Regions from separate parts of the Homo sapiens genome. Here all the other regions are linked to region 2. Evidence: fine-mapped expression QTL. A gene starts in region 2. Each other region holds a variant in brackets. All regions are shown on one strand. Distances are from middle to middle.

Region 1 (8,189 bases), 40 kb before region 2:
GAATTAACTAAATCAGGTACATTCTTTTCTGTCATACTCCATGATATGGTTTGGATCTGTGTCCCCACCAAATCTCATGTCGAATTGTAATCCCCAGTGTTGGTGGTTGGGCCTATTGGGTGGGAGGTGATTGGCTCATGGGGGTGGCTTCTCATTAATGATTTAGCACCATCCCCTTGGTACTGTCTACATGATAGTGAGTGCGTCCTCATGAGATCTGGTTGTTTAAAAGTGTGTGGCGTCTCCCTCCTCTCACTCTTCCTCCTGCTGTGGCCGTGTGATGTGCCTGCTCCCACTTTGCCTTCCACCATAATTGTAAGTTTCCTGAGGTCTCCCCAGAAGCCAAGCAGATGCCAGCATCATGCTTCCTGTACAGCTTGCCAAACCATAGGCAAATTAAACCTCTTTTCTTTATAAATTACCCAGTCTTGGCTGGGCGCAGTGGCTCACATCTATAACCCCAGCACTTTGGGAGGCCAAGGTGGGCAGATCACCTGAGGTCGGGAGTTCGAGACCAGCCTGGCCAACATGGAGAAACCCCATCTCTACTAAAAATACAAAATTAGCTGGGTGTGGTGGCGCATGCCTGTAATCCCAGCTACTTGGGAGACTGAGGCAGGAGAATTGCTTGAACCCGGGAGGCGGAGGTTGCAGTGAGCTGAGATTGCGCCATTGCACTCCAGCCTGGGAAACAAGAGTGAAACTCTCTCTCAAAAAAAATTAAATAAATAAATAAATAAATTACCCAGTCTCAGGTATTTCTTTATGGCAATGAGAGAAAGGACTAATATACTCCTATATATCATCCTCAAAAGTTTTGAAGTGGTAAATGTGGGTTTAAATCAACCTTCTTACTGTGCTATTTGTCCTGCCTATTCTGTTTTGTTTTCTCTCTCTTCTTGCCTTTTTATGAAGTGATTGATTTTTAAATTCTGTTTTCCTGTTAGTCTGAAAACTATGCAATTTTTTTACCCTAGAAGTGACAAATTAGTACCTTAACCCTCTAGTAGGAAAATACAACTAATATACTATTGTTGGACATATGACCTTTATTTTGATTCTCTCTATATTTTAAACTCCACAAAACTTTACTGTTATTATTTTACATAGTCAATGTTCTTTTAGATTTATCTACTAATTTATGGCTTTTTAAATATTCTTTCTTGCCTGCATAGCTGGTATTTTTCTTCTGCCTAACATGCCTATTTCCTTCCTGGAAGTCTGCTGGTAGCAAATTCTCTCAGTTTTTGACTGACAATGTCTTTATTCATTTTCATTCCTGAAGGATATTATTCATTTTCATTCCTGAAGAATGAAGAATGCTTCATTCCTGAAGCATAGAATTCTATGTTAGTCATTATTTTCTTTTAGTATATTGGTTATATAATTGTTGTCCCTTGATTTTTTCATACTACTGCTAAACCAGAGCTGACAGGGTACATTTTGCCACTTTGAAGATAATCTGTTACTTTAAAAATCTATTTGCCAGCCTGGGCAACATGGAGAAACCCCATCTCTACAACAAATACAAAAATTAGTTGGGTGTAGTGGCTCATGCCTGTTGTCCCAGCTACCTGGTAGGGTGAGGCGAGAGTATCACTTGAGCCTGGGAGGTTGAGGCTGCAGTGAGCTGAGATCATGCCACTGCACTCCAGCCTGGGCAACAGAAAGAGACTGTGTCTCAAAAAACAAACAAACAAACAAATAAATAATAAAAAAAACTATTTGCTTTAGATTTTTTTTCCCTGCAATTTCACTGTGAAATGTCTAGATACAGACTTAACAATCTTTTATCCTGATTAGGATCCATCACTAAAATTATTCCTTTTCACATGCTAGCTAAAGTTATAAGCTCATTCCTAGTTGGAAATGCCTTATATGCAAAATATTAGTTACAACCATAATTTTCTACAATCCCAACACTGACTGCACTCAAAACAATTTCTGGACTTACAAAATAACATTGAATTCTTTATGAAATAACATTGAATTTCTTTATTCTCTGTTCTGAACAACTAAATGTTAACATTATATTTATTACCTTCTTTAGTCTTCCATTTTTATAAGTGTGAGGTTAAAAATGAAGGGTAAATGACTGCCCAAGGATGCAAGGAAACCATTTTAATGGTTTTGATGACCTCTTTCTTTGGCTATCCAAAGCTAGTTGGGCTTGAGAATGGGTTTCACAATCTATTATAGCAAGTATGACCAATTAAAGAGCAGGCAAGTATGATACAGGATTAAGTGAATATGTGTACTACACAGGATTCCTGTTTGGGATTCTAGGCAACGATTTGCATAAGCCAGATAAAAACAATTGAGAGAGAACTACAGGTGTTCAGGAAATACTCACAGGCAGTCACAGACTTTGATGAAGTTCTATAAGGGAAGACTTTTATCGTATCCAGGGCAAAGTTGTCAAAACCAGCCTATGGTAGGAATGTCTAATTTTGAAGTGTCAGAATAAGCTAAGCTGTATCTCCACAGTAAATGGTCACAGTCAGGCAAGATACTTCAGTGACTGTATCCAAGGATGAAAATCACTTTCTAGAGTCAGAGTAGACACTCAGTTGAAACATCATCCTCTGACAATAAGTAGAGAGAATGGTTTCATGTGAGGAAAGTTCTGCGTTCATTCTCTTTTGGAGGTTTTATCCTCTGTGACTCTATAATGCTCCACAAGGGGGACACCAGGGTCCCTGGATTTGAAAAATGGCTTCAGGTTTTTTATGCAGTCGTGTGCAGCATAACAACATTTTGGTCAAGGGTGGAGCACATCAATGATGGTGGCTACATCATATAGCTTAGGTGTTTAGCAGGCAATACCATCTAGATTTATGTAAGCACACTTTGATATTCACACAACAAGGAAATCACCTAACGATGCATTTCTCAGAATGTATCCCCATTGTTAAGCAATACATGACTATATATTGATACTTAGCAAAATCTTATGATTTGGTTGTTATCCTAAATATGCCTTTAAACATAAACAGACACATCTCAAAAGAAGACATACACACAGCTGAAAACCATATGAAAAAAATGCTCAACATTATTCATCATTAGAGAAATGCCAATCAAAGCTCAATGAAATACCATCTCACACCAGTCAGAATGGCTATTTTTAAAAAGTCAAAAAGTAACAGATGTTGGCAAGGTTGTGGATAGAAGAGAACACTTACACACTGTTGGTAGGCATGTAAATTAGTTCAGCCACTGCAAAGTAGTTTGGAGATTTCTCAAAGAACTGAAAACAGAACTATCATTTGACCCAGCAATCCCATTACTGCGTATATAACCAAAGGAATATAAATTGTTCTACCATAAAGACACATGCATGTGTATGCTCATCACAGCACTTCTCATGCACAAGAGCAAAGACATGGAGCTTAACTAGATGCCCATCAACGGTGGACTGGATAAAGAAAATGTGGTACATGTATACTACACAATATTACATGGCCATAAAAAATAATAAAATCATGTCCTTTGCAGCAACATGGATGAGGCTGGAGACTATTACCCTAAGTGAATTAATGCAGGAACAGAAAACCAAATATTGTTCTTACTTATAAGAAGTGTGAGTTAAACGCTGAGTACACATGGACACAAAGAAAGGAACAACAGATACTGGGACCTACTTGAGGGTAGAGGGTGGGAGGAAGATGAGGATTGAAACACTACCTATTGGGTACTATGCTCACTACCTGGATGATGAAATCATTTATATACCAAACCTCGCTACACACAACTTACTCATGTAACAAATCTGCACAGGTACCCTCTGAACATAAAAGTCGGAAGGAGAAAAAAAACATATTTTAACATTAAGTAGATATTCAAAAAGTCAAAAAAATTGTTTAAAGAATAAAACAAGATAAATATAAATCTTATAAAATTTATAATTATCATCTGAAAGAAAACTGTCACACCTATTAAAAATACTGTATCTGTCTTGACAATTGTTCAAAATCAAAAAATCTTGAGTTGATTAGCAAATTTATCTTGCATCAGTATTTTTAAGGCATTTGAAAGTTCTGAAAAACTTTTTTTTTCAAAGAAGGCTGTCATCTGATGGAAAATTTTTCATACACAATTACTTTCATTCCGCTAGCATTATTTTTGGTGAGACTATTTGAAAACATCAATCAAACCAGTGTCTTTTGATGTTAGGTATTTTGAAAGATTAAAAAAAGTAAAAAGACAACAGTAAAATATGCCTTTACATATACATTAACTGACAAACTTTTTTCAGATATTATTTAACTTGTACATATAGTAAAAAAATGAATTTCTATATTCTACGTACTGGCATGAAAATAATCCTGCATCAGTGCTAGCTTTACTTACTTGCTTAAAGTACCAGCAAATCAGGGATACTTTAAAACCCAATTATTTTGAAGAACTTTGACATCATTTGAAAATATTTTTAAGTTTCCCTTATGATTCTTTGGCCCAAAGAAAATCCTATGGGTCAAAAAAAGTCTTCGCTAAAGAAATATTCTACTTTTATTGGAAGTATGTTGTTATAAAACACTTGTGGATTTATCTAGATATCTTTTCATTACTGATTTTTAATTTATTTCTGTTGTGGTCAGAAAATAATATTTTGTTTGGTTGCAGTCACTTGGAATTTAATAATACTTGTTTGTTGGCCCAGCATATGCTCTTTCTTGGTGAATATTCTGGGTGACTTTGAAACAAATGTATAGTCTGCAATTGTTGAGTGTAATATTGTGAAGGTATCATTTAGGTCAGGTTGGTTGATAGCATTGTTCAAGTAGTCT[A/G]TTATCTTACTGATTTGCATCTAGTTGCTCTAGCAATACTGAAAGAGCAGTGTTTAAATTGTCAAATATGATAATGGAATTTTCTATGGTTTTCCTTTATGTCTATTTATTCTCGGTGTATTTTGAAGTTCTGTTATCAGGTACTTGCACATTTAGGTCCCTTTGACAGAGATAGTTCATGATGATAAAAGGATCTACCTATCTCTGGTAATGTTCTTTGTCTTCAAATCTACTTTGTCTGATATTAGCATAGCCCCATCAGCTAAAAATTAATAAAAAAATTTTTTTTAGAGACAGGTTCTCCTGTTACCCACGCTGGAATTCAGTAGCATGACCATAGCTCACTGCAATCTCAAACTCCTTAGCACAAGTGATCCTCCCACCTCAGCCTCCCAAGTAGCTGAGCTACCATGCCTGGTAGCTATTTCATTTTTAATATTTGCATGGAATATCTTTTTGAATCCTTTTCTTTAAAACTACCCATATCTTTGTATTTAACATGTATTTCTTTTAAACAACATATTATTGGATTTTGGTTTTTATCTAGTCAAGTGGTTCTCAACCAGGGGTGATTTCTTCACCCCCACCATGGGGCATGATATGGTTTGGCTGTGTCCCCAACCACATCTCATCTTGAATTCCTATGTGTTGTGGGAGGGACCCTGTGGGAGGTAACTGAATCATGAGGGCAGCTCTTTTCCATGCTGTTCTTGTGATAGCGTATAAGTCTCACAAGATCTGACGGTATCATAAGGGGGAGTTTCCTTGTTGGCAATATCTAGAAATAATTTTAGTTATCATAAGTGAAAGAGAGGAGCGTAGTACTACTGGTATCTAGTGGGTAGAGGTCAGGGATACTGTTAAACATTTTGCAATGCACAAAACAGCCTCTACATCAAAGAATTATCTGTTCCAAAATGTCAACGGTGCTGAGAAACTCTAGTTTGATAATCTGATTTTTAATTAAAGCCATTAGCCTAATTTCATTTAATAGTTATGTGATTAAATGTAAACCTAGCATTTGCTATTTGTTTTCTGTTCATCCTATCAGTTCTTTGTTCCTTTGTTGTTTTTTTCTTGCCTTCTATTGGATCAAACCAGTATTTCTTTAGTATTCTGTTTTCTTCTCCTTTTATGCCTCTTCACTTATTGTTTTAATGTAAATATTCTGTTCTTCAAAGTTTTCATTTATATATTTATTTATCAGTATAGGCACATTATTTCCTATATTACTCAATGGGCTATGGTCCATTACTGTAATTTGTTTTGATACTCAATTTCCCCATCTCTGGCCACTGGGAGTTGTTTCAAACTAACTTCTGTGTTTTTTTTATTTGTTTCTTATCATTATTTGAACACTTCTTCCTTTCTAGGACTAACATATTCCAACCTCACCTTGTATTTCTGCTGCCTCAGCAAAAGTATTCAGATGTAATCAGTTATTTCTCCAAGGAGCCCTTATTCCTTTCAGTGGAGAATAATATTCAGAAGCTAAGATCTGAGATATAGGTATGTTCATTGCTATTGGGGACTGGTAGTCTCAGGCCCTTTTAGTAGACAGATCTATCAAATATATGTGAAAAAATACACACACACATGGTTACACATATTTATATCAACATTCATTTCTATATATACCTGATACTTTATCTTTCAATCCAACACCTTAGGGATCATTCTAGTTTTCTCCATTTCCATATTTGCAATTTCTTTCTTCAACAGAAGAACCTACTCCCCATGATCTTATTTGTAAGTCCGCCTTTATGTAGACAATCTCTCATCATCCCACCTCTATGGCTGGTGTGGATGCCCTCCTCAGCCCATGTCAGACCATCCTTTTTGTGGACTCCTTCTACGGGCTCTGATATCCTATGCCAGATACCCTTCCTCCCCTAACACACAATGAGTGACATCCAGTAATTTATTTTAAAATTTAAGATATATTTATCAGTCCTAAAACTTCCATTTGGTTCTGAAATGTCCTATCTAGCCTCATGGAGCACAACTCCAGAGAGGACTCAGAGATTGCTGGTAAACTGAGGAAGAAGTTAAGAAGTGGGGCTATTTGTAATAATTGAAGATCTTCCTATCGACCAAATGCCCTTCTCCCCTATGCTCATCTGCTTATAGCCAGGTGTTTTACTCTCCAGGCAAAAAACTCAAACAGTTCTCTAAAGGGCATGTAGGTATTTATACCTGAGAGTAAAGCCTGCCTTTTTCGGGCATGTGGAAAATCCCCATAATATAAAAGCTGGCTTCCCACCCTTTCACTTAAATATGAAGCCCTCTGGTTGACAGTTTCCACTATGGATAAAGAGATTTAAATCAGCCTTTTTAGCATTCACTTAGGCAGCACATATACCAGCCTTTTTATTACTCCCTCCTTAAACATGAAGAGGTAGCCAAAGATCTTCAGCTACTTTAGAAAAGCCTGGAATTTAAAAGAGAAACTGAGGGAAACTAACATGAATGTCAACAAATGCCAAAGGAAGCAAAGGAAATTCAGAAATCCAAAGAGAACTTTAAAAACTCTCTCCTAATGCTATCCCTCCCCTATCTCCCCACCCACTGACAGGCCTCAGTGTGTGATGTTCCCCTCCCTGTGTCCCTGTGTTCTCATTGTTCAACTCCCACTTATGAGTGAAAACATACCTAATATAGATGATGGGTTGATGGGTGCAGCAAATCACCATGGCACGTGTATACCTATTTAACAAACCTGCACTTTCTGCACATGTATCCCAGAACTTAAAGTATAATTAAAAAAAAAAATAAGGAAGTTCAAGGTCTTCTTTACTGTCTTCTAAATCTCTAACTCCTTACCATTAATCTGAATTTATGTGTCATTTCCATGTATATTTTTATAAAATATAACATTACTCTTACTCTCTTAAAATATTACTTTCATTATATATGTATCCAAAATCAATATATAGCATTGCTTTCCAAGTTTTAAAATTTTATATAAATGGTATCATGCTTAATGTATTTACAACTTTAAAAAAACAGTATGTATGTTTTTGAGATTTATCTGTATCAGTCAGTAGAGCTCTAAATTTTTCATTTAAATGGATGTATAAATATGTTTATCCATTTTCCTGTAAACATTTATTTTGCTTAAGAAAACTTTTTTTGCTATTAAAAATGCTACAATATTCTTTAAAAAATCTCTAATTAGCATTTCAACAAATCTAAAAGATGCTAAATCCATATCATGAAAAAGGAATTATGAAGAATGAGAGTTCTTGGAAATTAAATGTATGATTGCTGGAGAAAAAAAAAAATCTCAGAAGTATTGGAAGGCAAACCCAAGAAAATCTTCCAAAATGCAGAACAGCAGCAAAAAAAAAAAAAAAAAAAAAAAAAAAAGAAAAAAAAAATTAAGTCCTACATCCCAGT
Region 2 (8,189 bases):
CTTGAGTTTCCAAGTCCACAAACCCACCTCTACTTATATCTCCGAATATAAGGAAAGAAGGCAGTTGCTTCTCTATCTAAGGCTAAACCTTTCAGCCATATTGTGCATCTTTCCTTCCGCCTCTTCTAGAACATCAGACTCTCTCCTCTCTCTGCAAACTCTCACTTTTATTTTATCCATTAGTATTTAAACATTTATAAATCTGTTTCTTTTAAAAACAATACCAAAAAAGTAAAGAAACAAAACAAAAACAATCCTTGCTCATCCCCATATCCTCTATGAAGCTCAATCTCGTGTCCTTTTGACAGCTGGTATTTAGTTGCTTCACTTCTTACCCATTCACTTTTCAAACCACTAAATGGTGTTTCCCACCACACAACTGCTCTGCTAAGTGTTGAAATGACCTGTAAATTCCTAAATCCAATGGGTACTTTTCACTCAGTATCCTGCATATTCTTTTTTGGGGGGAGGGGGAAGGGGGGACGGAGTCTCGCTCTGTTGTCCAGGCTGGAGTGCAATGGCAGGATCTTGGCTCACTGCAACCTCCGACTATCGGGTTCAGGCGATTCTCCTGCAACCTCTGACTATCGGGTTCAAGTGATTCTCCTGCCTCAGCCTCCAGAGTAGCTGGGATTACAGGCGCCCATCGCCATGCCCAGTTAATTTTTGTATTTTTAGTAGAGACGGGGTTTCACCATATTGGCCAGGCTGGTCTCAAACTCCTGACCTCAGGTGATCCACCCGCCTCGCCTCCCAAAGTTCTGGGATTACAGGCGTGAGCCACTGCGACTGGCATTTTTTTTTTTTTTTTTTTTTTTTTTTTTTTTTTTTGAGACAGAGTTTCATTCTTGTTGCCCAGGCTGGAATACAATGGAGCGATCTCGGCTCACCGCAACCTCTGCCTCCCGGATTCAAGCGATTCTCCTGCCTCAGCCTCCCAAGTAGCTGGAATTACAGGCATGTGCCACCATGCCCGGCTAATTTTGTATTTTTAGTAGAGATGGGGTTTCTCCATGTTGGTCAGGCTGGTCTTGAACTCCCGACCTCAGGTGATCCGTCCGCCTTGGCCTCCCAAAGTGCTGGGATTACAGGTGTGAGCCACTGCACCCGGCCATATCCTGCATATTCTTTAAACAAATTTACATTGTTGACTTCTCTCACCTTCCAAACCATTCCTTTTTGCAGGCATCCAAAGACTAACTCCCCAGATTTTTTTTCTTAATTTATTGGTTTCCCCTCCTCGGTCTCCTTGAAGGTTCTTCATTCTCAACCCATCCTTTGGATGTTCAACCCCAAACCTAGGCTTTTCTCTCACTATATACTTTCTCTAAGCAATGTCATTTATTTCTATGTCTTTGATTATTATCTCTCTACTTAAGTGCACACATATATTAATCTACCTATAGAAAATGAAGCACCAGCTCTGTTCTGCACTGTTAACAGAGGTAAATACCTGGAAACAAAGTAAATGTAAACATGTAAAAAAAAAATTAGTGAAGTACAGTGCATCCATATAATGCAATATATGCAGTTACCTTCCTATGGACCAAAATCAACATGGCAGATTGTTTTTAAATGGCTAATTTACAAAACTCTTCCCCATTCTGATCTTCTTCAAAAGACAGCCTGAGTTAGAGAATAACAGAAAAACATTACATTCCTTTTCAATCGGTTTGCCGTCACTAATGATTCAATGGACAATTATTCCAGAGGTAGATGAAAATGGACCATAGAGGAGTCAATATGCATATGGGAAAAGCTAACCAATCACTGCCAGAGTCTGATTATTTCATAAAACCTTACATACTATTCTAACCCTCCTCTCCACCATCATCTACATTTAATCCTCACCAAGTCCTGTCTACTATTCTTCCTAAACATTTTTTAAATGTTTCTACTTCTCGTCCCCAGGGTCACCATCCCAATTTTGGCCACCATCATGTTGAACATTTCCCTGTATCCACTCTTGCCCTCTCTAAGAAGTGTACTTTTTAAAACCAAAATTTAGCACTCCACTATGTAAAATGCTCCAATGGCGTCCCATCACCCTTAGCAATAAAGTCAAAACTCCTTACAGTGCCTTATAAGGCACTCCGTGTTGGGCCTGAATAACTCTCCTGCCTTATCTGTTACCAGTTTTCCTCTCACACTTTATTTTCCAACCTTACTGACCTTTCAATTACAAACTGCACAAATGCTATTCCCTTGCCAGGTACACTCCTTTTCCTCCTCCTGGCCCCACCCCAGTGCTCACACCTGGCTTATTCCAACTCTTCAGGTCTCAGATAAATCATTTTCTTAAGAGATTATCCCTGCCCCCTCCCCATTACATGACCCCCATACTTTCTCTGTTACATACCATCACTTATTTCATGTCTGCATTTCCCACTAGATCAAAAGGTCTCTGAGGGTTTGTCTTCAATACTGTACACCCAGTGACTAGCAAAAATCCGGCATCAAGAAGGTATTCAATAAATACTTGTTGAAAAATAAAGACTAATAAAGAAATAACTACATTTAACAACAATAGTCACCATTGGACACTTACTAATGCCTAAAGAGAATACAGAACTTAGCTATATCCCACAACTAATAACTAGTAGAACTAAGGGAGAGTCCATGAATGTTTGGTTTCTATTTCAGCTTTCCACCAGTCTTTACTTAATTCACCCAAATTCTTCCAAACCAATTCTCTCTCCATGTCCTACCTCTAGGGAATGGCTTGAGGCATACCGTATCACTTGCATTATCTTTCACTCAGAAACTCTGTCCCATCTAGAAGTGTCAAGGCTGAAAGAACTACACTGAAAAAACAGGGAATTTCAGTGCTTCAGTTCTGAATTACTGATAACTCTTTGAGCCATCTCATACGAGGAAAATGTCATCTAGAATATCAAACTCCTCAGCACTAGAGCAGCAACAGCAATTTCTCTCCCTTTCGGCCTCCTTCTAGCGAGATGTGGGAGGTCCGACAAGGAGCTTGGCTGTTCTCCACCATCCTCTGCCTCGGAGAACGCGACCACAACGTGGCGCCCAGTTGAGGGGGAACCCTTGCGAAATACGGAGAGGCGCTCCCACACCCTCCAATCTCCAACCACCACTGTCAACTCCTCCAGAGGCAGGTATCCTACCCCGGCCCTGGGAGGCCGACTGGGCGGAGCTTGGGGTCCGGACCACGCGGAGCCCTGGCAGTGTCTATGCCTAGATCTCGCCGCCCTGCCGTCCACCCATTTCTCCCTACCTGACTCGGCCGTCGCCACCAACGCGCTCTCCCAACCCTCGGAGTCAGTTCCAAAACCAAACCAAAAAGGAGGAGAGCAGACAAGGCTTCAGCCTGCGACTGAGAACAGGGAGGCGGCACGCCTTGGGGAACGAGGGCCCGAGGCCATACGCGCTAATACAGGCCAGTGTCGGCGTAAACTTTCTCCGTTACCGGCCCGGCCGCGACCGCCATGTTTCCGCCGCCGAAATCCGCGACGGTACGGAACGCCGCCGGGGTCAAACTGCGCGGCGCGCCTCCTTCCCGAGGCCCGGCCCCCTCCCCGCCCAAACCCGCGCGCCGCCACACACTCAGGTGAGCAAGGCGCTGCGCGAGTGTCAACTGCCCCACCTAAGGCGCCTGCCTTCCTCAAGCCAAAGTCGACTCCTGGGACCTGGAATCAGCAGCTGAGAACAGACAGCGGGAAGACCACCAAAGATCAGGCTGACAGTGCCCATCAAGCATCTAGGCCACCGCCTCGGGCTGGACCGAACGGGGACAGGGTGGACAGGACTGCCACGCGTGGGCTGTAAATACTGCGGGAGGCGTTGCTGCTCATTAATATATATGGCATAATATATGGCTTTGTAACCAGCTAAGGCCCAAGCTCCTTAGGCCCTCCCTCAGACCTTTCAGTTCCTCAAATGCAGGGACATGTCGGGTTTTGCTCAACATTAAATCACCTTAGCATAGTGCCTGACACATAGTTGGCACTTAAATATTTGTAAAATAATAATATGCAATAGGCTCTCCACGATCCGTAGTTCTCTCCTCCCACTTGTTTTGCATGTATTATCTATATATTTTTCCTATTTTCCATAATAGAGTGTGAATTTCCTAATTTTCATAATAGATGTTGGGGGTTGGTGTGGCCAGCACATCTATAGGAATGAACAACTCTCAGATTGAGATTCTGCATATGTGGATGAAAATTTTGAGTTAGATTCTCTCTAGACTCCTGATTTTAAAAGCAATCACAACTCAACTTCCCAAATCTGTAACTAGCTCTCTGGGGAACACGAGTGCCACATTTCCAACTACCTGCTAGATGTTTCTACTCAAATATATTGTCATCACTTCCAACTCAACTTGCCTTTAATGGACATTTATATACATTTATTATGCCCCCCATTTGAATCCCCTTCCGTATTTGGAGAATTCCCCACCTGAGTTAAGAGTCTAATGGCTGCCGCTGAAATGCTGAACACTTGTTTAACTAATCATGTGTACCCGCTGGAAGCCATGAGTCAAAAAAGGCACAGAAAGCTACACTCCCAGGTCACCTGTAGGAGTATAGCAAGTGTAGAGATCGAGAACCCATCCCTAACAGCAAGGTAAGCTTCCGAGGCAGTAGTGAGAGTGCTGGCATCCACCATTAACATGTCAGAGATGCAAGATGCCTGTGCTTGGTGAGGGTCACAACCCCAGAGCCCTTTCCCAATCTGTTCTGTAGCCTGTTAACAGTCTCTGTGTACATTTCTGGGTAGCCTGTGACAGACTCTGTACTACATAGCTGTGAGGCAGGACAATAGGGTCTGGAGGCAAGGAACTTACGGCTGATTCATGCTGACTTTCTAGAACTAAATCAAAAGGAAAGCCCCAACTTTCCACAGCTAAGTAACAAAGGGACCCGGCCCCCTCCCCCACCACCGCCCTTTTCTGCGTGGCAGACGGAAAATTGAAAGTACCTCGGATTGGTTGCTTTCCATAACTAATTAAATGTTTGCATAGGGTGTAACCTTTGTAACTTCGCTTCAGGCTCTGATTGGTTGCTTTCCGCTATCAGACTGATTGTGGGCCACTATATTTGCGTGGGGTGTACACCAAGTGGCCAATGGGAAACCTCTAGAGGGTGTTTATACCCCAGAAAATTCTATAACCCGGCCGCCCCGCTCTTGAGCCCCATGTTCCGGCTCTTCACACCCTGTGGAGTGTACTTTCATTTTCAATAAATCTCTGCTTTTGTTGCTTCATTCCTTCCTTGCTTTGTTTGTGCGTTTTGTCTAATTCCTTGTTCAAGATGCCAAGAACCTGGACACCTTCCACCGGTAACAGCCAAGGTAGATTCTGGCCATGTAGGTGCAAGCCTCAATCTCCAGCTATCCTTTGAACTACTTAGCGTCCTCTAGTAAACTTACTTTCTGCTTAAATTAGCTACAGCTGCATTCAGTTGCTTAGCACTAAGACCAGCTCACTAAATCAGTGGTTTTTCATCATCTTCCTCTAACATGGTCTTCTGCCTTATGACTTTAAAACCATTTTTGATGCTTGTTATCTTGTCCTTATACTTTAGAATACTTCAGTGAGATGTGTGTATGTTTGAAAGTTAATCTGCACAGCCCAGGGTGGGTAATTAGCATTTGAAAGACTAATCAAAAATGTTCACTGCAGAGTTGAATGCACAGATGCTTCCAGTATCACCATGTAAATCTGCACTAGATGTACCTTAGTTAGCATAAAGGATTAGAAAGAATTCTTCATTGTGGAAACAAGATGTTCAAAATACGTGGCTGGTTAGAATACTGTACAAGCACTTATGCATAACTGTGGCGTAGAAATCTGCTGTGTAGCAGACCGACAGCCTTCAGAATGGCTTAGTCTAGACTTCTGTTTAATATTTTGCCACAAAGTACTGTTTGTGTACTGTTTTTTGTGTCTGCTTGCTGATAAGATTTGTGTAGTAGCATTCAGTCTGAGACTTGTTTTAACTGTATGACACTACCTAGTACCGAGGGAGGAGAAAGATAGCCTTGTCAATCTTTAGTTATTGAAGGATACCAGTATTTACCAAAAAAAATTTGACACTTATGAATGACCAAGTGCTGTTCATTTTCATCCACCCTATCTCTTGCATTTATTATTTCCCATCAACTTCTATTGCTTCTACTCTGTTACGGTATTACTTCAGTAACCTCTATGCTGGTCATCTTGATTTCAGCCTCAGCTCAGTCTAACCCATTACACAGGCCCCTGGCTGATGCTCTCAGAGCACCATGCTTTGACACTTCTGGGATTAAAACCAGTGATTTATACAGGCTACAGAATAAAGTCCAAATTCAGTCTGGCACCTGAGGCCCTCAAGGACCCAATCTAAATCCCCCTTTATCCTGAAAGAAGAAAGGGTCAATTTGCGACATCTGGTACATCCGCAGCCAGACACCTAAATATAAAACAGCCACCTGGGAACCATTGCAGAGACTGGTGATTTCAGGTTCTGGTTAATGATGGCAGTATAATGATCCTAATCACTAGAATATCCATTCTTTAACACCTACTTCTATACAGACAAGGTCTGTGTGCTTCAGGCCAGGAATATCACCTGAGGAGTTATTTCAGACTAGGAACACCTGTTGAAAATATACTCATGATAATAAGTCAAGAAAAGGAAGAGGGAGCAGCACGCATCACAGGAGGTACGGTGGATCTTATCACACATTCCAGTCCTCTGGCAGGGAGTCACAGATGAGTCCTATGTTATTTCTTATGTTCTCTATTGTTTTTCTCCTATTTTTTCCATTTATTCAGTTCAGTCGTAGGGCTAAACTAACTCAGATTCTCCATAGAAAATCAGCTGGGCCTCCCTTATTCTGTGTAATATAAAGTACTTTCACCTATATTACATAATCTACACAAAAACCCAATGATGTAAATATTTTCATCACCATTTTGCAAATAATGTAACCAAGGTCCAGAGATACTACGTTGTTCTAGGTCCTCATAACTGTCTAAGATCAGGGAATTAAATTCAGTCTTTTGGCTTCAAGTTCTGGGCCATCAAGAGCAGCTTTCTAAATATCAACCCCCACTCTGTGAGGAAACACAGGTATTTCTTTCTCATTACTATTGTTTCAGTAAGTAGGGAAAGAGTTACATCATTCAGTCTACACCTTAGAATCATCTGGCCCAGACCAGTTAGAGTTTCTGAAATTAGCCTTGGGTGTGTGTGTGTGTGTGTGTGTGTGTGTGTGTGTGTGTGTGTTTTAAAGCCTCCCTCTTTTCCAGTGATTCTAATGTAAAGCACAGCTTGAAAACTACTAAGTTATTACCTCCATTAGTGCAGTGGTTCTTCAGGTATGGTCCCCAGACAAGCTGCATTAACATCACCTGGGACCTAGTTAGAAATGGAAATTATAAGGCCCTATCCCCAGACCTACTGAATCAGGAACTCTAAGGGTAGAGCCGAGATTTTGGGATTCGGTTCAGATGTGTGTATCAGAAGACTCAACAGTGTCTTAATTGCAGTTTATTTCTCTGTCTTGTAAAAACGGTCTAGAAGTAGGTGTTCCAGAGCAGACATCGTCCTCCTTGGTGTTAGAGATCCTGATTCCTTCTTTTTTTCTACCCTACCATTCTCAGGATGTGGCTTCCTCTTCATAGGCCAAGATGGCTGCCTGATTTCCAGCTATGACTTCTGAATTCCAGTCAGCAAGTAGGAAATGCACTTCCCCCCACCCTTACTTTGACACTTCTTGGAAGCCGTATGACACATCAGCTTATATCACATTGACTAGTATTTAGTATTTATAGAGTCTGCAAAAGGTGGTAATTTCGGGGGCGGCCATGTGCCCACCTAAAATCAGGGTTCTCTTTCAGAGAAAGGAGAATAAATATTGGATGACAGCAAGCAGTATTTGCCAGAGTTAACTAATTGCTTTTTTTCTACCTCCAAAATTCTAAAGTGAGATAATAAGCATCATAACTGTTTGAACACTTTTGGTTTGCTGTTCTAAGTGATGCTCCTTATTTCATTAGTCTTTTCACTGTATTAATGATGGCAAGTATTTATTCATATGGCTGAACTATGATTAATTCTTCCCCTAATTTTGAATATTTGGAATGTTACAATTTTTGCTGTTGAAAGTGCTGCACTAGGGCTTATTGCATTTGTGATGTACTGCATTTCTGATTATCACTTCGGAACGTAGATTCC
Region 3 (8,189 bases), 50 kb before region 2:
ATTTGCATTTCTCTGATGGCCAGTGATGTTGAGCATTTTTTCATGTGTTTTTTGGCTGCATAAATGTCTTCTTTTGAGAAGTGTCTGTTCATGTCCTTCGCCCACTTTTTGATGGGGTTGTTTGTTTTTTTCTTGGAAATTTGTTTGAGTTCATTGTAGATTCTGGATATTAGCCCTTTGTCAGATGAGTAGGTTGTGAAAATCTTCTCCCATTTTGTAGGTTGCATGTTCACTCTGATGGTGGTTTCTTTTGCTGTGCAGAAGCTCTTTAGTTTAATTAGATCCCATTTGTCAATTTTGGCTTTTGTTGCCATTGCTTTTGGTGTTTTAGACATGAAGTTCTTGCCCATGACTATGACCTGAATGGTAATCCCTAGGTTTTCTTCTAGGGTTTTTTATGGTTTTAGGTCTAATGTTTAAGTCTTTAATCCATCTTGAATTAATTTTTGTATAAGGTGTAAGGAAGGGATCCAGTTTCAGCTTTCTACATATGGCTAGCCAGTTTTCCCAGCACCATTTATTAAATAGGGAATCCTTTCCCCATTGCTTGTTTTTCTCAGGTTTGTCAAAGATCAGATAGTTGTAGATATGTGGCATTATTTCTGAGGGCTCTGTTCTGTTCCATTGATCTATATCTCTGTTTTGGTACCAGTACCATGCTGTTTTGGTTACTGTAGCCTTGTAGTATAGTTTGAAGTCAGGTAGCATGATGCCTAAAGCTTTGTTCTTCTGTTTCACTTTTCATCTGTCGTATCATCTCAAAATCTTTTCAAGTTCTTTCAGAAAGTTTGTCAGAGAGTTTCTCAGGGAACTGGATGACAGTCTCTGAATTTTTAACTATTGTTCCTTGGAGAGCCCTGCTGGAAAACACAGAATACCCTACCAACTTTTGCAGAGGATCTCTGTTGCTGAGCAATTCTTCTAAACATTTTAACTGACCAGTATAGGGATGAAGAAAAATTTTGTAAGCAGCTTCTCACACCAAGTCGCCTGGTGCTTCTGCATGGAGACCATCAATTATGATACGATCCCCATCAGATAAAAGTTATGGTGAATGTGTTCTAGTAAGAGATGCTTCTCAATCTTGTTGGGAAAGTTGTTTGCCGTAAGACATGTACTACTCAAATCCAAGATTTTAACATTGAGGTCCACTGCTCTTTTACACTTTTCTTTGTCTAGATGGATTCCACTAATTTCAAAATCAAACATAAACAGTTAGGCCACTTGCCTAGTTTTTGTTTTGTTTTTAATCAGCTAGTAATTTTTGCAAACTTTGACATAATTCCACATTTGTGTTCATCCAAGTCAGCCACTCTGAACAAGGAATCTGAGAGCTCATCGAAGATGCGCACAATCTGGGGTCCAGGTGGGGTGGAACATGCATGTTCCACAAGCAATTCTGTCTTTCTCAAGGCTTTTTATTGGGCAATATTAAATTTTTCTGGAGCGCTGAGCTCAGGACATCCAAAAAGACCCCAGTGCTCACTAAACAGGTCCAAGTGGTAGCCCTGACATTGAAGGCGGAGCCCACCAGGGACCAGCAGATGCTGACCCTTCCACATGGGTATCAACTCTGAGGCTGCCCCTGCCTACCCGCCCTGGCCACAGGGGCACTACTCCAGCTACAAAGCAGCCTAGCCTTTGGGCACATAGTGTTTGTGCAGTAACCCCATGCCCAGCTGCAAGACCCTTGCTCCAGTGCTGCAGCTCCAGCCAGGAGTGCACGTTCTGCATTTCCGGGCTTTCTTCATTTTTAAAATGCTTTTTTCTTTTCTTTCTTTCCTTCTTTCTTTTGTTCACTTGTAATATTTCAAAATACCTGCCTTCAAGTTCAGAAATTATTTCTTCTGCTTGGTCTAGTCTGTTGTTGAAGCTCTGGATTGTATTTTGTCATTTCATTCATTGAATTCTTCAGCTCTAGGATTTCTGTTTGGCTCTTTTTTAATGATATCTGTCTTTGTTGGATTTCTCATTCAAATAATTACTTTCCTGATTTCACTGAATTGTCTATCTGTGTTCTCTTGTATCTCACTGAGTTTCCTTACTATTATTTAGAATTCATTTTTGGCATTTGACATATTTCCTTATGATTGGGGTCTATTACTGGAGACATTGTTTTCCTTTGGAGGTGTCATGTTTCCTTTCTTTTTCATGTTCAACATGTTCCTACATTGATTTCTACATATCTGGTGGAAAAATTGCCTCTTCCAATTTTATGAAGTAGGTTTCATAGGGAAAAGCTTATTTGTATGAATGGGTCTTGGAGTGTTGGCCTTGGTTCTGGGTGGACACTGTAGTGTAGTCTCCATGTAGTCTTTTTTTTTTTTTCAGCTGTAATCCACACTAGTAACATTTATGAGTGTCTCAGTGTCCTAGGCTAAGATTTTGATGGTAATGGGAGTGGGTTCCTATGCTGGGAGTGGGTTCTCCAGGCTATTTCTTAGGTTTGGGGAGTGTGTGTGCACATAGTGGTTCAGTCACCTTGGGGTCTGGCTCACTGGAATTGAGGCCATGGAGTTATTACTGTGGCTGGGAGCATGGGCACACATTTGCTTGGCTGGCCTTGTGGCATGCCTGCCAGGAGTACATTGTGGAATTGTTCTCACGTCCAGAATGTAGGCACACAGCTGGTCAGCTGGCTTGGTAGTATATCTACCAGGGATAGCCCACAGTACTGTTTTTCAGGCCTGAGACATGGGTGCAAGGCTGCTCAGATGGCCTAAGGGTGTGTCTGCTCTGGGGAAGGGGGACCCACCGGAGTGTTTCTCAATTTTGGGACACAGGTGTTAGGCAGCTCAGCTAGCTCAGGATAGCCTTTGGGGACTGTTTCTTAGGTCCAGGTCATGGGCTCAAAGCTGCTTGGCTGGCCTAGGGTTGTGCCCACCAGAAGCCAGACTGTGGGACTGTGTCTCAGATCTTGATTGCAGGTGCAGGGCCATTGGGCAGGCTAGGGGCATGTCTGCTGGGGAGTGGGAGGACACTACAGGGACAGGGCTATTTTTCAGGTCCTGAGCAGAAGTGTGTAGCTGCGCCACCAGCCTGAAGTATGTATTAGCTGTTCAGAGGCTTGGATGCCTCTCCTACTTTGAGGGGGGCATGCAGTGGTTTGGCTGGCTCAAGGTTGAGTTCACCCTGGGTGGGACTGCCAGACTGTTCATTCAGGTGGAAGTGTGGCAGCAGGGATGGGTGGGTTACCTTGCTGTGCAAGACCTGAATCACAACCTACCCTGGGCCTGAGCTTTGTGCAGATGGAGTTGTGGCATTCAGCCACCTGTGTAGGCTTGGTAAAATTAAGATGAAGCCCCAGTATTGGAGAGGAACAGTGGCTACTGGCCATCAGAACAAGGTGCACTACAGAGATGGCTCTGTTCTCATGATGCGATGCTGCACCAGCTTGTCTTGCAGAGGGTGAGTGGTGGGTGGGAAGTATACACGTCATGCCCCTAAACTGGGGCAATGCAGCTGCATGAATTCCTGGCAGTTCTCCAAACTGGGCTCAGGGCTTGCAAGGAGCATGTGATTCTCCTGTCCTAAGAACTGTGAGTGTTTGTGGTGGCAATGGCGACTGGTGGGGATCTTTTGCCTACCTTTTCCCCCTGAAATGGGAAGTTCCTCCTGACTCCTGGCAGATTCAATCTGAGCAGGGGAGATGGTTGCAGACACCAGGTACCTCCATACCGCCCTCCTGGATGTCAGTGAATCACCACAGGTGCATCTCCACTCCCTTGCTGCACATCAGCACTCTCCCTTCAACATCCCAGTAAAATCTTAGCTGTTTATTTGTTGCCTTGGTCCTTGTGGGAGGGATGCGTATCAAGCATCACTAGTCAGCAATTTTGATGATGTCACTTCTTTACTTGTACATAAAAGCAATGATTATTTCCTTGGCTTGCCAGAGAGCTGAAAGTTAAAATTTCATTTGAGAATATAATCCCAGGCTCCCAGTGATCTCTCTCTTTATAGAACTTGTGATCTTTCTAGCATTCTTTTAAATTTATTTTTAATTTTCCAGTAGTAAATCATTAAATAATCCAGACTTCCCATTGGGTGTAGTTTTTAAGCTGCTAGCACCACCATCTTCATTTTATTTACCAAGCTAACAAATAGAAAAATTAGACCTAGAGTCTGGCTTTTCTGACCCATATATAATGCATGCAGTCATAGGTCTAACAAAGTTCATTTACACCATAAAAAAGAGCAAACGACAATTTTTACAATAAGCATATTTTGCCAAAAATAAAAAAGGGAATAAAAGAATGTCTTACTTGCCTCCTTGTTAAAACAAACTTTTTTAAAAAAATAATTTTTTTCTTGCTTCCAGTGTGGTTGGAGAAACTTTAACAAAAATTGACTATCATGGGAAGATCTTTGTATTAATAGCTCTGGAAGAGAGTGTTAGACTATCTTAGGAGGCATACTGCTTCACATAAGTGAAGATAATAAGAGACATGGCCTCTATCCATTGTAGCCATTAAGATCCTGT[C/T]GGGATATAGTAGTCACACTACTTATTTAACAGAAAATATAACATAAGGAATTGTTAATTAGGTATAAAGTTGTTAGTTAGGTGGCTAAAAAGGCAAAAAGGAAACATAAAGCAACTGCAGGAGCAGATACCACTCCTAGGGCTGGGGGAACAAAGGGAAGAGGTTGCACATACAGGTTTGAGTATTTCTTATCCAAAATGCTTAGGACCAGAAGTGTTTGATTTCAGCTTTCTTCAGATTTTGGAATATTTGCATATACATAATGAGATACCTTGGGGATGGCACCCAAGTCTAAACATGGAATTCACTTATGTTCCATATACATATATATAGCCTGAAGATAATTTTATATAAGATTTTAAATAATTTTGTGGATAAAACAAAGTTTTGACTGTATTTTGGCTGTGACCCATCACATGAGGTCAACTGTGAAAATTTCCACCTGTGGCATCATGTCAGTCCTCAGAGTTTCAGATTTTGGAGCATTTAAAATTTCAGGTTGTTGAATTAGGGATGTTCAATCTGTATTAAAACTTGGAAGCTTGGAGACAAGAAGCTCTGAAACTCAGATCTCTAAAAAGGGGTCTTTAGATAGCTAGTTTTTGTGTCTCTGACAAGGTGCAAAAAGGCTGGTTCTATAAGAGTTGTGATGGGAAGGACTTGCCCTCTCAGGGTGAGGCAGCATTGGGGAGCGGAATTGCCTTCTTAGGGTGAAAAAGCAATGTAGGGCTGATGCTTCCAGGAAGAGGAAGCAGGCAAGAGCAAGTAGTTCTTTCTTCCTGTCTCCACCTTGTGCTGTCCTTCTAAACAACCTCCTGTCATCACCATAATTGGCAGAACTTAAGAGGGAGCCAGCTGGAATGTAGTTTGTAAAGTCTCAGCTCCAGCATTATGTAGCACAGAATGGATAGATTTGATGCTGAGAAACAAAAACTTAGTAACTGGCACATTCATTTAATTCTAAATAAAATGTTTTCCCCACCTATCCAATATTTTTGATTCCTATGTTCTTGAGATGATCAGAAATAATCAAATATTATTGTAACTTATGCTTTCCTATCATTTTAACCAAGGCTGAATCAAAGTTAAATTTTACTTCTTTCTATTATTGTGGGGGAGGGGAGGGGGGTGTATTCAGGGATTAGTTGGGAAAATGGGAAAGATTACTTTTAATTTCTATAATGGACATACTAGTTTTATTGTTGACCACCTCAAATATGTTGGAGATACATGGAGTATAAATTATAAATAAATAAAACTCAGCTGTGCCAACTAATAAGAGACTCCCAACAACTCCCCAATTATCTAACCTTGGGGTGGGGACGGGAATGTACACTTTTACTGGTGAAGAATTAGTAGCAGGAGATGATGGAAGAAAGATAGTCTGAGCAGACACGCACAACACTTCTTCAGTCTGAACTCTGTTTTTCATTCACCCAAAGGCTACTAGCCTAAAGGTGTAGTGCCTTCCAATTTCTGGATGAAAAAGCCACTTGGGAGATAGAGAAGAGAGAACAACAGAGGAAGTACATATTTAAAGTAAATGTGCTAGTTAAGATTCCCTTAAATTAAAATCAGGATGGAAATAATTTTATTTTGAGAACCTTCAGAGAATACTATTGAATAATCTATGGTTCCTTAACACAGGAAGGGGTCTTCAATTACCTTTTTTCCTTTAACTGAAATTTTAAAATTAATAGTATCTTTTTCAATTTAGAAATGAAAGAAACTTTAAAACTGCTGCAAAAACATATACGGTTATATCTTGTTATGTGATGGTGCTTAACATAAAACAGGATGTTTTACTCATGGCCAGGAAAGCTTGTTATATAAGTACATTTAAACATAAAGCCCTCCTCCCTGCCTTAAAAAAATAAAAAGGTCTATAAATTCCTAAGGATTTTGAAACTCTTGTTTAAGAACTTTGAGGAATTGGGGAAATGTAGGTTATGCTTGATTTTTAAAAAATGGTTGTTTTCAACAAAACATAATCTTGCAGAAGGGAAGAGTAGGAGGGTACGAATTATTTAAAAGCTTTTCCTAAGTGACTTTGATATCTGCTCCCCACCCCAAATCAGGTGAAGACCAATGGCAAAAATAAACATAAAGGTGGATGGAAAATTGCAATGCCAGGAGAGATATTACCCTTTAATAAAAATCTTTTCCATGTTTATGATTATTTTATTTTTTATCTTATAACGTAAATAATAAAATAACATCTTAATGATAACCAGAGCACTAAAAACCACCACCAAAAAAAAAAAAAAAAAAAAAAATCACAGGTACCTGGGTATTAAAATGGCCTGTTAAGGCAGGCAGCTCAGTGCGATTGGAATTCACTACAGGGAATATTAGATTGAACAAAGAACTAGAATAGAAGTGTTGACAAAATTTAATTAGGAGAGGGCTGGTAGACACTCAAGCATGGCCAGAGAACACAGAGATTAGAGCCTGTGGAGCCTCCCTCTAAGTGGGCATAGGAGGTAGTGAAACCTGTTTGGAGTTGAGCTGCTGCAGCCTGGGGCACTTCTCTGGGGAGAGAGCTCTTGTTTCTAATTTTCCTAGAATACAGCTAACAAGGCTAATGTTACCAGCCCAGCTGAGGTCTTTTTTTTTTTTTTCCTTCTGCTGAGGTTTGTAATTCTACAATTTTAAATGTCCTTAACTATAAAAAACAGTCTATGAACCAACCCAACTTCCACATTACCCAAGTATCATTACCCTATATATCTCTTACATTAACTTATTATGTTAGTTTGTTCTTCTATAGTAGTGCTTCCTATCGCAATTCTTATAGAACCAGATATGTTGGTATTTGTGGTCTCAGGTTTTTTAAGCAAAATTTTTTCATAAATCTATAAAAAGGATATAGTAATATATAAATCCCTTGGCATTTTCAGAATTTATATTTGTGGTGTCCACCCTCATTTTGTAAAAGTCCATGTCATGTGTTAATTTAAATGGAGAAAATAAAATCCACTCTAGTCTATAGGGTTGTTATGAGGATTAAATGAGATAACATAGAGTATTTAGTAAGAATTTAAATGTCTGGGGCTGAATGTTTGCAGATTACAGGGTTAATCTTTTTGTTAGAGCAGGAAGAATCCAGTGAAAGTTTGATATTCCCACTAATGATTGGTTCAATTTTGAAGATTCTTCAAGGCCTCCCACATATACTAGAATTCTTCCAAATATACTTCTATGCCTTTAATGAAAGAACATTGCCACTTGATTCGAACACTCAGTTGAAGAGAGCTTACCATATGTGGTTAGAATCAGGCTTCAGAGCCAGATCACCCAGGGTGGACCCCTCCCTTTCCTACTTGGTGATCTCGGGTGAATTATTTTTACCTTATTTTACCTCTCTGCCTCACTTTCTCATTCCTAAAATAAGAATAATAGTACCTCCTTGAAAGGATTGTGAAAAAGATTAAATGAGTTAACATATGTCAAGGGCTTACAACAGAGGTTGGCTGTTAGCCAATGGTAGCTATCCTCTAGTGATAAGTTCAAAAACATCTCTTAAATCAATCAGCTTCTGGCAATTTATTTTTAACATAGTTCCAGTAACAACAAAGCTATATTGAACAGTTTTGCCCCACCACTGGTTACAAGCAGGCTTATAAAATCCTGTTTTCAAACCTTATTTTCTACACAGACGGAGTTTCACTCTTGTTGCCCAGGCTGGAGTGCAGTAGCATAATC

Alleles and levels. Positions count from the first base shown, and alleles are read on the strand shown. Sizes are in standard deviations (SD) of each study's normalised expression. Not every link is listed here.
For the expression in pancreas of the gene that starts at base 3,475 in region 2, G is the low allele of the variant in region 1 and A is the other (moderate effect, 0.52 SD a copy in GTEx).

Evidence for each region. PIP is the estimated chance that this variant, and not a neighbour inherited with it, causes the effect. A credible set is the group of variants that fine-mapping cannot tell apart.
Region 1: its variant is the best candidate, but not a certain one, in a credible set for the expression of TMEM168 in pancreas (GTEx, PIP 0.54).
Region 3: its variant is the best candidate, but not a certain one, in a credible set for the expression of TMEM168 in whole blood (TOPMed, PIP 0.52).

What each region holds. Positions count from the first base shown.
Region 1 is chr7:112,747,296-112,755,484 of GRCh38, forward strand. No RefSeq gene overlaps it. Among named protein-coding and RNA genes, the nearest start is that of TMEM168, 39 kb to the right of the region's middle. The variant A/G (reference allele first, on the strand shown) is at 4,791.
Region 2 is chr7:112,786,919-112,795,107 of GRCh38, forward strand. TMEM168 (transmembrane protein 168) reads right to left here and starts at 3,475. Exons shown (of 5, transcript NM_022484.6): 1 at 3,242-3,475. RefSeq lists an enhancer at 3,734-3,863.
Region 3 is chr7:112,737,043-112,745,231 of GRCh38, forward strand. It overlaps the pseudogene MIPEPP1. Among named protein-coding and RNA genes, the nearest start is that of TMEM168, 49 kb to the right of the region's middle. The variant C/T (reference allele first, on the strand shown) is at 4,484.